Regions from separate parts of the Homo sapiens genome. Here region 2 is linked to region 1. Evidence: fine-mapped expression QTL. Tissue or cell type: blood mononuclear cells. Region 1 holds a variant in brackets; the other region holds the start of a gene. All regions are shown on one strand. Distances are between the middles of the regions.

Evidence for each region. PIP is the estimated chance that this variant, and not a neighbour inherited with it, causes the effect.
Region 2: ADAMTS17 starts here. The variant in region 1 is fine-mapped to the expression of ADAMTS17 in blood mononuclear cells (TOPMed, PIP 0.93).

Annotation. Positions count from the first base shown.
Region 1 is chr15:99,929,907-99,932,586 of GRCh38, forward strand. No RefSeq gene overlaps it. Among named protein-coding and RNA genes, the nearest start is that of LYSMD4, 200 kb to the left of the region's middle. The variant T/C (reference allele first, on the strand shown) is at 1,477.
Region 2 is chr15:100,340,731-100,343,410 of GRCh38, forward strand. ADAMTS17 (ADAM metallopeptidase with thrombospondin type 1 motif 17) reads right to left here and starts at 1,245. Exons shown (of 22, transcript NM_139057.4): 1 at 1,091-1,245; 2 at 309-679. The coding sequence starts at 1,169. RefSeq lists an enhancer at 1-97.

The DNA.
Region 1 (2,680 bases):
CTCCCTTTCTGCTTTGCATATTCTGTTAAGTGCTAAATGTTTATAACTACTTATTCTTGCTGTATTGAATCTCTTCTCAATATATAATGTTCTTTGTCTCTTGTAACCTTGGACAAGATACAGACTACTTAGACTATTGAAAATCCTGACAGTGTATTTGAAACATGCACGTGGACATGGTTTTATTTTTCTCAGTTACTGCTTTCAACTGTGTGCTGATTGAAACTCCTTTCCCCTGGATAGAAGACCTATTAAAATAACCCAACTTTATTCACTAACTTGTCAACTACTTTTGGTCAGTCAGAATTTTGTCTTTGGCCAGAGTTAATCAGCTAACCCGTTGTCCCCAGATCATCAGTGCAGCTTCACCTGGGTACTTCTTATAAATGCAAATTCTCAGGCCCTGCCCCAGAAACTCTGGAGGTGGCCCTGCAGTCTGTGTTTAAGAAGCCCTCCAGGGGATCCTCAGGTGTGATAAACTTTGAGAATCAGCGGTAACCCATCTGCAGAGGTATTTCTATTATTTCAGTAATTATATTTTTAAAATTTTACTTTCTGGAAATACTTTTTAAAATTTACCTATTTTTTCATGTATCTTGATTCTTTTTTTCTGTTTTTATTTCTCATTTTAGGTCTTTAGTAATTTTAAGCCAATTTATCTTGTAGGCTCTGTTTTGATCATTCTACTGGCTTTCCATCCCTGAAGTTTATTGACTTGGAGTTGCCAGTGTTTTGTAATTTGGGATTGTGAGCTGGTCTTAATGGGGACTTCATCTATTGGAATCTTCTGTACCTTACATGAGAGTGGGTGCCTCCAGAGTGCTTTTGGGTTTGCTTCAGCCAGGTGCTTGGCGTTATCACCAGCCCAGGACTGCTTTGCATACCAATGTTTTGACCTGGGGATTTTCTGGCCCATGCATGTCATATACAGCCTAATCCCATCACATGAGTATGGGCCTGTGATGACAAATTGATAGGAGAATCATTTTCCCTACTCAGAGCCCAGGCCAGGTCTAATATCCCTGACATAACTGCCAGTGGGGGAACTTTCTCTAGATGATGATTACTGAGAGTGCATCCTGCCCTTGAAGGACCCCTCATTTATGAGTGTTGTGGGGCAGGTCCAAGGCTTCCTCTCCAATTCCTCACAGCATTAAAACCCAAGTCCCTAGGCCAGGGATGGTGGCACACGCCTGTAATCCTGGCACTTTGGGAGGCCAAGTTGGGTGGATCACATGAGGCCAGGAGTTCAAGACCAGCCTGGTCAACATGGCAAAACCCCATTTCTACTAAAAATAAATATAAAAACTAGCCAGGCATAGTGATGCACATCTGTAATCCCAGCTACTCGGGAGGCTGAAGCATGAGAATCACTTGAACCCGGGAGGTGGAGGTTGCAGTGAGCTGAGATTGTGCCACTGCACTCCAACCTGGGTGGCAGAGTGAGACTCTGTCTCGAAAAGCAAAACAAAACAA[T/C]CCAAGCCCCTGAGTTAGTGAGAGGATGCCAGCCCTGGTGGGTGGGGAGATCATGAAGTTGTATACCTAATTGTTGGTTCCCAGTTCATCTTTTGGCCTTTACTTTCTGTTGAACTCTGCATTTAGAGTCTGTTCTATTGCACCAAGCAATTCTGAGCATATTGCGGTGGGTGTTGCCTTTCAGGTTACCTAGTTTCTCATATTGCTGTAAATAGAAGTCCCCTGATAGCTCATTTTGAAACGTCAATCTCTCTTCCCTTCTCCACCTAGTGCAGGCTAAACCTAGTGTTTCCATAGATGGAGAGTGGGGTAGGGGCAGTTGCACATGACTCTCCTGCTTCTTGGCACTTGCTGTTCTAATGTTGGGGTCAGGAAGAGGGGCTGGCAAGGCATGACTGTGGTGAGCTCTCCTCTTGCTTTTCGGGTGGTAACTGCTGGTCCAGCTTATTGTCCACAGCTCTGCATAGGTAGGAGGTGACCAGAAACCCTAGGCATGATGAGGTTCAGCTGCCCCTGTGGACCCCCAGATGGTGGCCTCATGGTGCGTTCTGGTGCACAGGCCTTCTGCTCCATGACGTGACCCCGTAGCCCCGGTCTCCTCTGCCGTTCAGGGCCTTCAGCCTGGGCCCTAGACACGCATGCCACATCCATCTTCTCCCCTCTTGGAACCCGAGGACTCAAAGCTCTACTGGCATCCCCTCTCCTCTGTCCTCATTTCCTGTTTCCCTGGCTACAGGAACACCTGACGATGCCCATTTGCAGCAAACCAACCATGGCTCAGAATTCCTCCAAGCTCAGTCATGCTCTGAGGGCATGTGAAAAGAATGCCCTGCAGAGGAGGAGAGATTTGTTTGTGGCCTTGATGTCATTTGAGATTCTGAGTGTCCAACTGGGGAAATCAACGTTTCCAGGTGGAAACAAAGGGGGCTGCAGAAAGCTGCCCACCCAAGCCAAGGGTCCCTGTTTTGCTGAGTCTAGCGAGGGACTTCCTGTCCCCACTGCTCCACTCCCTCCTCCAGCCCAACTCTCCCTGAGGCAGATGGCAGCAGAGAGAGGAGCAGGGGTTTCCAGGTCAGGCGAGAGTCCTCAGTGGGAGCCTGCTGGGAGGTGGTTTTCTGCCTGAAAGCAGAAGTGGTGGTGTGACAGTCCGTGGACACCAGAGTAGGGACAGAAAAATTGTCTCAGACCCCATCTACAATAAAAA
Region 2 (2,680 bases), 410 kb after region 1:
AGTTTCATCCCTGCCAGATCTGCGCTCCCTAGAGCGGGCGGCGTATACCCCACGCAACCCCAGCTCCGCGCGGGTTCCACGGGCTGCAGAGGCGCTGGACTGGGATGCTGCCCCTCCCACCCCCTTTGCCTATAGAGGGTACCGAAGGCCGGGGTGGGGGATGGGGAGAGGTGGAAAGGCAGGGGGTTCCCTCCGGTTCCCCTGGAGGCTGGACTTCCAGCAGAGGCGCCCCACCCCCACCCTCCACGGCGACCACTCTGCGTCGCAACAGACCGGACGGGCCGACCCGGAGGTGGCGCGGGCAGTACCAGGCCGCCGGCGGCGCCGCAGGCGCTGAGCGAGACGAGGGAGCCGGGGTGGCCGAGCACACGGCCCGAGTAGAAGCACAGCTCGGCGGGGCGGCCGCGGCGCCGGGCCGCGCCCGCCTCCTCCACCTCGAAGCCTCGGGACAGGAAGCGCAGGTCGCGGCGCAGCTGAAGGTACAGGTCGCGCCCGAAGGCCGGCAGGTGCAGCAGCAGGGCGCGCTCTCCGGGCCGGGCGCGCGGGGCGGCTGGGGGCGTGCGGGGGCGTCGCCGCCGTCGGGGCCCGGGGGCTGCGGGCAGCGGCGGCAGGTGCACGTCGTCGGGGCGCACCCGCCACGGGAGCACCACCTCCACGTCGGCCGCCGCGTCGCCGACAGCTGCGGGGAGAGAGGAGACGCGTCAGCGCGGCGGGGCCCGCCCGGACGCCCGCCCTCCCGCTGGCCGCCAGCCGCGCCAGCGCGGGGACAGCGCGACCCGGAGCCGGCGCTGCCTTCCCTTCCCTCGCCCGGCACCTCCACGCTGGCCCGCGCCACCCGGGGAGGGTCTCCGGCGCAGCCGCGCGAGCACCTCCCGGAACGGCGCCGCGCATCGGCGAGCGGAGACCCGGCGGCGGCGCGCCTGCCACGGAGCCACCCGATTCCCGTACTCCGGCCGCGGCCCGCGCCTCCTCCGCTCGGGCGCCGTCAGCGGTCCCGCCGCCGCCCCCGGGCCGCCAGGACGCCGCGAGAACGCAGAGGGAAGGTAGCCGCAGGACGCGGGGTGAAGAGGGCTGTGGGAGGGGGCGCTACCTGTGCCCGGGTCCAGTCCCCAAACCAGCAGCAGCAGCACGGGCAGGACGAGCGGAGGCAGCAGGGCGCCGTCACACATGGTACCCGGGACCGGCAGCCCCCCCGGACCGTGGCGGCGAAGCAGGAGCGCGCTAGGCGGCGGCGCCAGCCGGAGTGAAGCCCTCCAGCCTTTGGAAAAAGTAATTAGCGCTGCGGACAAACCCAACGTGGTAAACCCCAAGCCCCGCCTTCCCCTCGGAAGGCGGGAGGGGATTGGGCCCTCGCTTTCCTCCGCCCCGCCTCCTCCTTCCCTACTGGTTGGGATGGGTCGAAACCACAGTGCGTAGTTAGGTTGTCAGCGCTTTCTTACACGTGGTTTCTGGGCAGTGGCGGGGACACGGCACCAGGTGGCGCGCGGGAGCCGACCGGAGCCGTGGGACCCTGGAAGAGCTGGAGGATGCGGGGCTGGTCTTCAGAGCTTGTCCTCATTTTGGAACTCTCTCAGCCTGCTGCCCAGTTTCCCGGGAAGGTAGGGCGGAAATCGCCCCGGCCAAGCGGTTTCATCCAAAACTGCATATAATCTTTACATCTGAAGTTAGGTTTTAGTTGTTTGTGGCCGCAAAGACTCCCAGTCCACTTTCCCGCACACCTGAGTTAGCACCTGAAGGCTATATCCGCGGCGTTTATCCAAACTCTTCACACCTCCTGTCTTCTTTAATCCCACAGGAGCCAGTGCAACACGCATGCTCACACCCTCTTACAGACTGAAAAACTGAGGAAGAGAGAGAGCTTAAGGAAAAACGCTGAAGTTACCCAGAGAGTTCCTGTTGGAGCAGAGGCTAGAATTTGTGATCCTGATTTCTGGCTTGGTGCTTCTTATTAACAGCAGGATCCCCCCGCCCCGAGGGAAGCAGGACTCAGTGTTACAGGTTAGGAAACGGAGGCACAAAGTCCCAAAGCCTAGCCTTGAACGTGAGTCTCCCAGAAACAGAATGAGTTGATCCTTTCCTGCCACAATATAACTGAGGTCTGCAGGGAAGGTGACTCCATTAGCTTGCTGAATAGCATCTTGTAGAGGCTCATGCCTGTAATCCCAGCACTTTGGGAGGCCAAGGCGGGCGGGTCACGAAGTCAGGGGTTCCAGACTAGCCTGGCCAATATGGTGAAACCCTGTCTCTACTAAAAATACAAAAATTAGCCAGGCGTGATGGCGCACACCTGTAGTCCCAGCTACTCGGGAGGCTAAGGCAGAAGAATCGCTTGAACCCGGGGGGTGGAGGTTGCAGTGAGCCGAGATTGTGCCACTGCACTCCAGCCTGGGCAACAGAGCAAGACTCCATCTCAAAAAAACAAAACAAAACCAAACAAAACAAAAAAAACAATTAAGTGTAACCATAACCAATCTCAGGTTTCCCGTCCCTTCCCTGTCCTGCTCTTTTCCATTTTATCATAGCAGAAAGGTTATAGTTCCCCGCTGGATGCTGCTTGAAGCCTCGGAATCTAAATTCATCACAGGATTACATATCATCTGAAGGAATCTATAACACTGGCCACCTTCCCCGAAATATAATGAACCCCAAGGCTGAACAGTGACCCTCCACAGAGGCTTGC